Regions from separate parts of the Homo sapiens genome. Here region 2 is linked to region 1. Evidence: fine-mapped expression QTL. A gene starts in region 1. The other region holds a variant in brackets. All regions are shown on one strand. Distances are between the middles of the regions. Region 1 holds the start of PPP1R3E (protein phosphatase 1 regulatory subunit 3E). Region 2 overlaps RNF212B (ring finger protein 212B).

The links. PIP is the estimated chance that this variant, and not a neighbour inherited with it, causes the effect.
Region 2: its variant is fine-mapped to the expression of PPP1R3E in whole blood (TOPMed, PIP above 0.99).

What each region holds. Positions count from the first base shown.
Region 1 is chr14:23,300,360-23,305,736 of GRCh38, reverse strand. It overlaps PPP1R3E (protein phosphatase 1 regulatory subunit 3E), which reads left to right and starts at 2,878. Exons shown (of 5, transcript NM_001276318.2): 1 at 2,878-3,577; 2 at 3,879-4,439; 3 at 4,873-4,979. The coding sequence starts at 3,161. The coding sequence ends at 4,301. RefSeq lists silencers at 3,092-3,601, 3,682-3,741, 3,752-4,181 and an enhancer at 4,242-4,431.
Region 2 is chr14:23,256,478-23,261,854 of GRCh38, reverse strand. RNF212B (ring finger protein 212B) reads right to left here. Exons shown (of 15, transcript NM_001282322.3): 5 at 3,191-3,306; 6 at 1,911-1,971; 7 at 1,168-1,196. It also overlaps the pseudogene RNU6-1046P. Among named protein-coding and RNA genes, the nearest start is that of RNF212B, 21 kb to the right of the region's middle. The variant C/G (reference allele first, on the strand shown) is at 2,734.

The DNA of each region.
Region 1 (5,377 bases):
TGTAATCCCAACACTTTGGGAGGCCAAGGCGGGTGGATCACTTGAGGCCAGGAGTTCGAGACCAGCCTGACCAACATGGCAAAACCCCATCTCTACTAAAAATACAAAAATTAGCCAGACGTAAAATACAAAAATTAGCCAGCCTGTAATCCCAGCTGCTCAGGAGGCTGAGGCATGAGAATCACTTGAACCCAGGAGGCTGAGATCATGCCACTGCACTCCAGACTGGGTGATAGAACGAGACTCTATCTCAAAAAAAAAAAAAGGTAAAAACTAACATATTTTGAGGAGTTATTAGATGCTGTGCTTTTTTTACATGTGTATTTTTTCCTCTCACCAGTCCTTATGCTGTTTTATCCTCATTCTATGAATGAGGAAATTGAGGTTTGGAGAGGTTAAGTGATTTTCCCAAAGCCATAGGCTGATATGTAAGAAGCTAGCACAGCCATCTCATGCTGTAACTTTGACACTATCGCTTCAAGATCACCTCTTGCCTTCACATAGTCAATATGGTTCTCATAGTCTGAATCCACACCATTTACAAGTCCATACTCAATTCTCTCCTCTATTCTAAACACACAGCCTATTACACTCCTTTATGGCTGTATCCTTTCAACCATCCTCATTTCATTTTTGCTCTTAGCCTGATCATTCTGGCTGCCACCAGCAAGGTTGCCCTCTTCTTTAGAGAATAACCTAGTCCAAGTCTTCATTTGCACTCCTGGTTTATTTGTTTGTTTGTGATACAAGGTTCTCACTCCATGGCCTAAACTGGAGTGCAGTGGTACAAGCACAGTTCACTTCAGCTTCCACCGTCTAGGCTCAAGCAATCTTCCCACTTCAGCCTCCCTGGTAGCTGGGACTAGAGGTGTACTGCACCATGCTTGGTTAAATTCATTTTTTATAGAGATAGGGATCTCATTATGTTGCCCAGACTGATCTCAAACTCCTGGGCCAGCTTGATTGTAACATAAATTAATGTATGATTTATTAGACATTAATTTATATGCATTATATATATTATATTGTATATGCATATACAATATATACATTGTATATATTGTATCACATATAATGATACGAAGAGAATACATCCATGCATTCTATATACGTGTAAAATTTAAAAAGTCAATATTGCTTTAAAAATGAGTCCTAGCTAACTAGTATTGCTACAGTCAATACTAGTGCGAATGCATGTAAACAGGAATGAATTGTATAATAATAAGATAACATGTGTCTCATGGTTTATTTTCAACTTAGTCACTTGTGGTTTTACAGTTAAACTATCCTGCTGCTTTAAATTTAGAGACTTCATTTCTACTCTAATATTCCCTCTTTTAACACTCTGAGGATGTTAACTATTATTGTTAAATGTTTTAATCTTATATAACCAAGCGGGTAAGAGCGTGGACTCTAGAGCTAAACTGTTTAGGTCCTAATCCCACCTCCCCAATTATTAACTATGTGACCCTGGGTAAGAGTCCTCTCCCCTCTCTCCCTCAATTCTCTCATCTTTAAACTAGACATAATAGTCTCTATTCCTCTGATGGTTGTATTACATGGGTTAGTATTTGTAAAACCCTTACAACAGTACCTAGCACATTGTAAGTGCTATATTAGATCAGTAGGAAAGTTAGAAAAAAACTAAAAACAACTTCACTTTTTTTTTTCACTAATGTTAAAAAAAAAAAATGAAAGGGGAAAAAGCCAGCTCTGCCCTTCTTGGAAGCTCCCACTGGACCTATAATTCCACAGTCCCAACTCCAAGAGAGTTGTTGGGTGCTTGTTCATTCAATAATTTGAGTGCCTACCATATACTAAAACTCACCATGAATCAGACAAAGCCCCTGCCCTCAAAGGGCTTACACTTGGATTAGAAATCAGAACTCCACCACTTTTTTACAGATAAGAACACTGAGTTCAGAGTATGGCTCTGAGTTCAGGGGTGGCTCACACCTGTAATCCCAGCACTTTGGGAGGCCGAGGCGGGCAGATCACCTGAGATCAGGAGTTCAAGACCAGCCTGGCCAAGATGGTGAAACCCCGTGTCTACTAAAAATACAAAAATTAGCCGGGCGTGGTGGTGGACGCCTGTAATCCCAGCTACTCAGGAGGCTGAGGCAGGAAAACCGCTTGAACCGGGGAGGCAGAAGTTGCAGTGAGCCGAGATCACGCCACTGCACTCCAGCCTGGGCGACAGAGCGAGACTCCATCTCACACTCACACACACACACACACACACACACACACGAGAACACTGACTCCAGAGAAGTTATGCCTTGCTTGCTCAAGGTCACTAGAAGCTAGGTCTTCCTGCAGTTCTCAGTTCGGGTGCCATATTCTCACCTTCTATTTGAAAGACTCTACCTAGCTTTCATGACCTTTCCTTCTTTGCACGCACCACCACCCCCTGCCCAAACCAGGAGCCTAGGTTTCAGAAAAGAAAACAGTGAACCCCAAAGATAAAGTCACATGCTGGGCGTTTTGAACCTTCCCCTGCAAGAAAATGAAAGGTTATTTTTTCTTCCCGGCGTTAACCTTTCCTGTGCTGTGCCGGAAAAGTTGAGGACTTTTTACATTTTATTATTATTATTATTGTAGAGATCAGGGGTCTCACTATGACGCCCAGGCTGGTCTTGAACTCCAGGCTTCAAGCGATCCTCCCACCTCGGCCTCCCAAAGTGCTGGGATTTGAGGCGTGAGCCATCGCGTCCCGTCCGTGGATGTTTTTTTTAAAAGGTTGAGTAGCTTCACTCGGGACCGCAAAGGTGGAGTCCCCGCCCCCTGGTGCAGCAGCGAAGACAAGCGGAGCCACCTGTCAGAGGGCTGTGGGCGGGGGCGCCCGGGCCGTGAGGGCCTTGGAACCGGAGGGTGAGTGCAGTTGAGCGCACGCTCAGAGCAGACCGCTAGCAGGAGGCAGGATGTGATAGTCTAAGACCCTGGAAGCTGACGGCCAGAGGGAGGGAAGGGTGGTCACAGAGGAGAGGCAAAGCAACGGGAGGTGGAGGATCCTGGAGGTGTCTGCAAGGAGAATACACAGCAGCGAGGGGCTGCAGAAGCGGACCCAGCGACTTCTGCGCTGACGCGGGGCGGGCGGGAGAGAGGAAGAGAGGGGAGCGCGGTGGCGCTGCGAGCTGGCCCCGCCGGGGAAGGGGCTGCCATGTCCCGTGAGCGGCCCCCGGGCACCGACATTCCCCGCAACCTGAGCTTCATCGCCGCGCTAACGGAGCGCGCCTACTACCGTAGCCAGCGGCCCAGCCTCGAGGAGGAGCCGGAGGAGGAGCCAGGCGAGGGCGGGACGCGGTTCGGGGCCCGATCCCGCGCTCACGCACCGAGTCGGGGCCGCCGGGCCCGATCTGCACCAGCCGGAGGCGGCGGGGCCCGGGCGCCCCGCAGCCGTAGCCCAGACACCCGCAAGAGAGTGCGTTTCGCCGACGCACTGGGGTTGGAGCTGGCTGTCGTGCGCCGCTTCCGTCCCGGTGAGCTGCCCCGGGTGCCCCGCCACGTGCAGATCCAATTGCAGAGGGACGCCCTCCGCCACTTCGCGCCCTGCCAGCCCCGCGCCCGCGGCCTCCAGGTAGGCGGCGGGGGCACCTCCCCTCCTGGGGACCTCCTCCAGTCGGCCGCAGCGGGCTTGTGGGAGTGGATTTGCCAAAGAGCACCCATCTCCATCCCATCCCTGGGCTTGCGCCTGCCCATCCCTTTTGGGGACCCCATCTGCGAGTGGCTCTAGGCCACCCTGGCAGCTGGGCCGCACTCTGCCGGCCTGGACGCCGGGGTCGGCCTCTGATTGGTCCAGTGCCTTGCTCTGACACCGCCCCCTGTCTCTCCCCTCTCTCCGCCCTGGGCTCCCTCCTCCCGCTTCTTCTTTCCCCCAGGAGGCGCGCGCCGCCCTGGAGCCGGCCAGCGAGCCCGGCTTCGCCGCCCGCTTGCTGACGCAGCGCATCTGCCTGGAACGCGCCGAGGCGGGCCCGCTGGGCGTGGCCGGGAGCGCGCGCGTGGTGGACCTGGCCTACGAGAAGCGCGTGAGCGTGCGCTGGAGCGCCGACGGCTGGCGGAGCCAACGCGAGGCGCCAGCCGCCTACGCCGGTCCGGCCCCGCCCCCGCCGCGCGCCGACCGCTTCGCCTTCCGCCTGCCCGCGCCGCCGATTGGGGGCGCCCTGCTCTTCGCCTTGCGCTACCGTGTGACAGGTCACGAGTTCTGGGACAACAACGGCGGCCGTGACTATGCTCTACGTGGGCCCGAGCACCCGGGCAGTGGCGGAGCTCCGGAGCCGCAGGGCTGGATCCACTTTATCTGAGACGAGGCGCCTGCGGCCGACGGCGGAAAACACCAAAGGCACCCGGGGGCGGGGCGACCCGATGTGGCGGGGAGGAGTAGGAGAGACCAGGATTGGCGGGAGCGGTCCAAGGGAGTCAAGCCGGGGAGGGCGAAAAGGGTGGGGAAATCAGGGGCGTGGGGGCGTGGGGGCGTGGGGGCGGGGGGAGTGAGCGGAACCAAAGAAGCTCCGGGAGATCCGGGTGTTAAAAGCTGGTTGGATGTGAGTGGAAGGAACTCAGAATATAGGAGGAAGGAGACCCGAAACGGCACCGGAGGGATTATAAAAAAAGGAAAAGAATGGGGATGATGGTGGCCTTCCCTTCAGTGAGTGGGCTCTGGGAGAAAGGGAGGAGGTCCATCAGGCCTAGGCGGTTGAAGAAGGTTAAGAACCTTTTGGAGATGGAGGAGGTATGATGTGAAGTAGCCCACCCAGTCGAAGGCATTTACATTGCTGGCGCATTCCCTCTTCTTACCGGCCTTTTCCACCTCAGATCCCCCTGTCCTACCCATCCTAGCTTTAACTCAGCCATAATTGCCTTGCTTAATCCCAGGAACCTGGCCACTGCTCCTTGGTCCTTGGCATTATGACGGGATTCCCTTGTCACCTCTGACAGTTCCTGGCTGCGGTGTCCGCGGACTGGCTGGGGAGTGATGACAGGTAGCTATCAGAGCTCCAGCCTCCAGGCAGCTTTAGGGATTAAAACGGAGGCCAAAGCAACTCCAGACCTGTTTTTATAGCCAAATACTGAGCCTCAGGGGTTGTACACTCAGGGGCTTCCAGGAAAATGCCAGCCTTACTTTTCTGGGGTGCCTTTTAATAACCTCCAAGCACTTTGTGGACTGTTTGTCGAGGGACGGTGAATCAGAAGAATCACTATTCTGATTTCCTTTGTCTCCGAAGAGGAAGTCCCTGACTAGCTATATAACTTTGGGCGAGTTACCTCTCACTTCTTTGTGCCCCAGTGTTCTCCTTGGGAAACTGGATTTAGGTTAGATGACCTTTTAAGGCTCCTTGTATGATATTTTGTGATCTGTACATGGCAGAGTATAGATTAG
Region 2 (5,377 bases), 44 kb after region 1:
CAGCTGGGACTACAGGTGTCCTCCACCACGCCCGGCTAATTTTGTTTTTGTATTTTTAGTAGAGATGGGGTTTCACCATGTTAGCCAGAACGGTCTCAATCTCCTGACCCCATGATCCGCCCACCTTGGCCTCCCAAAGTGCTGTGATTACGGGTGTGAGCCACCACACCCAGCCGATACTAAAAATATATTTAAGAGTTGGTAGAGCATAGATATCACTAATTAGAAAGGACCGGTGGTATATATCCAGCCTGTAACATGGTACCTGATAAACAGTAGGCACTTAATATTGAATGAATGAACAGACCATCTAACTCCACCTAATGCAGTCTTCACAGAGGAAATGACTGAGTTCAATTTTGAAGGATGAGTAGTGTAAAAAGTAAGGTGGAGGTTCCTCTTTAAAGACTTTCCTCTTCATCTAATTAGGAATAAATAGTAACTTCTCTTAAAAGCAAAATTTATTTAAAGACCTGTACTAACATTCTTAAATATCTGCTAGCCGTAATAAAGAAATCAATGTACTTTATGTTCTTAGCTCCCACAATTTAGCCTAAATATTTGCCCTGGCATGCTTAGATTGGTCCAAACAAGCATTAGGTTATAGTCTGTTCCTCTTCCTTATTTGAAGGTGTTTTTACCTTTCTCAGCATTCCACAAGTTACTTCCTCCTTCCTTTGTTCTCCTCTACCTTTGCCCCTTTTCATAAGTTCTAAGTTGCTAGCCAATCGGAACAAATACAGAATGTGAGGTCTGGTTCCAGCCAATGGAAACCGGACACAGCAGTAAGGTAGACGCGTCAGGTTATGAACGACCCTGTCTCCTTTGTTCAGTGTACTCTCGTGGCAAAACTGCCGGCGAGTGTACCCTTTCTGCAGGAAGTAAAAATGACCTTGCTGAGTAAATTAAATTTATGTTCAAATGCTATTTCTTTATGGCACCAGGGAACAAGCATTTCAAACACTAGGATTTCATAAGATGACAATCCAGGGTGAGCATTACAATTAAGATTTTACTTCGGCACTTTCAGTAACTAACTCTTCCTCGGAGAAGTGAAAGCTAAATTCATTAACCATTTTCTCTCTCTCAGAGTTCACACAGCCAGGAGTCAAGAAAGAACAGGAATTTTCAGGGGGCTGGGCTAGTATGGGAGCTGATAAAACTGACCTGCTTCCTTGGTACCGACTTGGAGATTCCTATAGGTGAAAAAACCAGGAGTGAAGAAAGCTGCAACTGAGGATCCTAATCAACAGATCTTCAGTCTTACTTGCGAGATAACTAAGCTCAGTGCCCCTTAGTCATGGTTGCTAAGACTCCCAGTAGGAGGAAAAGTAGCAGCAGTATTTCCTTAGGATATTATTAGCTTTGAGGGGATAAAAGTTTAGTTCTTCATAAGAGTGCATACGGAATCCCATAGACTAACATATGTGGGGAAATACGGAGTCTCTGGTGAGAGAAAGGAAAATGACACACTACAATGTGCTAGAATAATTACAGGAGTAGGATCAATAGGAAAATTATATAAATACACAGAACATTCTTAGGAAGAAAAACTATTTAGGAAGTAGAGTGTGATGCAGAGGAAGGGTCCTGAGGTATCTTTGAGTTTCTTGAAGAGAAATGTTTAAGTTGCAACAGCTGTCTCTTCTATAAGAGAGCTTTCCAACTGGTAGGTCATGACTCACTGATGTTCAGGAATGGGTTACAAGTGTGCTATATATTGATCCTTTCAGTCCCCCAAGGTCTGCTGAGACCTCATCCATTTACTATAGTGTGCTTGTTATACAAATATCAATTTCTGTGTGTGCCATGATGAGAAAAAGATTAGGAAACACTATTCTATACAGTCAGCTAGATAGATGAGAAAAGTAAGAGAGAAAATAATAATAAGGAAAATCTATTTCATTCACCTTTAGAATGGCTAGAAATTTCTTCAGTTCTCCATTCTCCTTCCTTAAGACTGACAATTCTCTAGGCAAAAGATGGAAACAATCAGCTCCAGCAAATCAGGGATTAAAAACCTGATTTTTTATTATTATAACTATTAACATCTAGTTAATACTTACTGAGAAATGCTTGCAGCTATACAAGCTATTTCTATCAGGGATTTGATGATTCAAGGAGACTAATGGCAGGGTTTTGATAATGAGAACAATTAGGTGGACAAAATAAGCAATTACTTGGTATGATTTCAGGGGAATTTGCAAAGAATTCCATTTCCTCTCTCCACCCACACACACACCCCTGGCCTGCTGATGTCTAAAAATTTTTATCAAGGACTCCATCTTGTGATTGCTTTGGCAGCACATACACTAAAATTGGAACAATACAGAGGAGATTAACATAGCCCCCAAAGAAAGTTAACATGTAAATGCTTGAAGCATTCCATAAAAAAAAAAAACAAAAAAAACTTTAAAAGAAGAAAAAAAAAGGATTCCAGACCAGCCTGGGCAATATGCAGAGACTCCTCTCTACAAAAAAAAAAAAAAAATACAAAAATTAGCCAGGCATAGTGGTGTGCACTTGTAGTCCCAGCTACTTGGGAGGCTGAGGTGGGAGGATTGCTTGAGCCCAGGAGATTGAGGCTACAATGAGTGTTATCAGTGTGAATCAGCTATATCTGATTTCCCAAGGAAGCAGATGTTTTTTTTTGTTTTTGTTTTTGAGACAGTGTCTCACTTTTTCACCCACGCTGGAGTGTCGTGGTGTGATCATAGCTCACTGTAACTCAGA[C/G]TCCTGGGCTCAAACGATCTTCTGGCCTCAGCCTCCCAAGTAGCTGGGACTACAGGTGTGAACCACCATGTCTGGCTAATTTTTGTTTAAAATTTTTTTTTTTTTAGAAACAGAGTCTCGCTGTGTTGCCCAGGCTGATCTTCTCCTGGCCTCAAGTGATCTTCTGCTTCGGTCACCCAAAGTGCTGGGATTACAGGTGTGAGCCACTGCACCTGGTCTGGGAAGCAGTTTTTGATACCGAGAAATAGAAGAGGAAAACTATAAAGTGAGGAGGGCCTCTGGAGGGAAGAAAGAGAAAAAATGGAGATTCAGGGGATCAAAAATTCTGTACCTGATTTTCCCAAACAAACAAATACATATGGAGCAATTTCCAGGCTTTGCAAACACAATAAGGACTGTCACTTCTTAGAAAAAAAAAAAAAAAAAAAGCTCTCTTGGGACTTGATTTGTTACTTACTTGTCCTGGCTCACCAGTGCTTGCTGTGCCTCCTGCATGGCTGTTTCTAACTTTGTAATTCTATGCTTATAAAAGGCGATGAGGAGATCTGTTTGTTTCTTCTGGAAACTCCACACCTACTAGGGAAAAACAAGCCTTTGACATACTCTCCCATAACTCCTTTCCCTTCACTTCTGGCAAGAAAGGGAAGCCATCAAATCACACTTTATTATACTGCTCATTTTCTTCTAGAACATCTGGCCTAATTCACAACTTCCCAGAACTAGAGAGCTCAGCACTCATTTCCAGGACACTAGCCTTCTACTGTCTTTTTTTTTTTTTTTTTTGAGACAGAGTTTCGCTATTGTTGCCCAGGCTAGAGTGCAATAGTGCGATCTCGGCTCACCGTAACCTCTGCCTCCTGGGTTCAAGCTATTCTCCTGCCTCAGCCTCCCGAATAGCTGGGTTTACAGGCATGTGCTACCACGCCCAGCTAATTTTGTATTTTTAGTAGAGACGGGGTTTCTACATGTTGGTCAGGCTAGTCTTGAACTTCCGACCTCAGGTGATCTACCCACCTCAGCCTCCCAAAGTGTTGGGATTACAGGCGTGAGCCACCGCACCCGGCCCCTTTTACTATCTTAATGAGAATATTCTACCATAGTAGAATGACCCTTTAAATATATAATTTTTCATCCCGTGCAAGAAGAGAGATTTTTTTTAAAACTGTTTTTCAAGCTTAGAATTGGTTCTAACTTGTCAACTATTAGTTTGGATCAGCCTCCACATTCATAGCTATTACACAGCCTTGGTGACCAATTTATTTTCCCTAAAGACACCTACAGAGTCACCTGCAGGCTGCTTATGCTGCTATAGGAAAGGGTGGAGAGGCACAGAAGGAGATTACCTATGCTTGAATTTTTTTTCTGGGCATGCACACGTAATTTTTTATTTTGCCTCACTTTACCATTTGCTATACTAATGTGTCTATCATGGGATTGCTGAATCGGATCAAAAGTTAATATTTAGAAAGTGTTTTAGCTTTGTCAGGCTCTACTTTTGAGTACACAGCAGTATTTACGTCTCATCTGCTTCCTCCCTGTTCAGACTATAAACCCTCTTTTGTCTAGGGTCCTTTCCTAGATCTTGGTACTCTTCTCATAAACTTTTTGTTCTCACTTAATTTTCAAATTGCTCTTGCCACCTTACTAAAGAATTGTACTTAAGAGTTTCCTTTCTACTTGAAAGTAAACTAAACTAGTTTTAGATAGATAAGAATTTACTCTAGTCTATTTTTTTAAACCCTCATTTTTAATAAAACTAAAATGTTTATTTTAAGCTGTGAAAAGAAAATGTTTACTTTAAGCCAGGCATGGTGATCATGCCTATAATCTCAGAGACTCAGGAAGCCAAGGCTGAGGCAGGAGGATTGCTTGAGGCCAGGAATTTGAGACCAGCCTAAGCAACATAGCAAGACCCTGTCTCTATGAAAAATAATTTTGATTTATTTTATTTTATTTTTTTTGTGTGTGTGTGACTGAGTCTCGCTCTGTCGCCCAGGCTGGAGTGCAATGGCACGATCTCAGCTCACTGCAACCTCCGCCACCCACGTTCAAGCGATTCTCCTGCCTCAGCCTCCTGAGTAGCTGGGATTACAGGCGTCCGCCACCACGCCTGGCTAATATTTGTATTTTTAATAGAGACAGGGTTTCACCATGTTGGTCAGACTGGTCTCGAACTCCTGACCTCGTGATCCACCTGCCTCAGCCTCCCAAAGTGCTGGGATTACAGGTGTGAGCCACCATGCCCGGCCAAAAAATAATTTAAAAAATTTAGCCAGGCGTGATAATACATTCCTGTAATCTCAACTACCTGAAAGGCTGAAGTGGGTGGATTGCTTGAACCCAGGAGTTTGAGGCTGCAGGGACCCATGATCGTGCCTCTGCACTGCAGTCTGGGCAACAGAGCAACAGCCCAACTTAAAAAAATTATTTTAGAAAATTTGAATAGAGGAGGCCAGGCGTGGTGGCTCATGCTTGTAATCCTAGCACTTTGGGAGACCAAGGTGGGCAGATCACTTGAGGTCAGGAGTTCGAGACCAGCCTGGCCAATATGGCAAAACCCCGTCTCTATTAAAAATGCAAAAATTAGCCAGGCATGGTGGCGTGCACCTGTAATTCCAGCTAATGGAGAGGCTGAGGCAGGAGA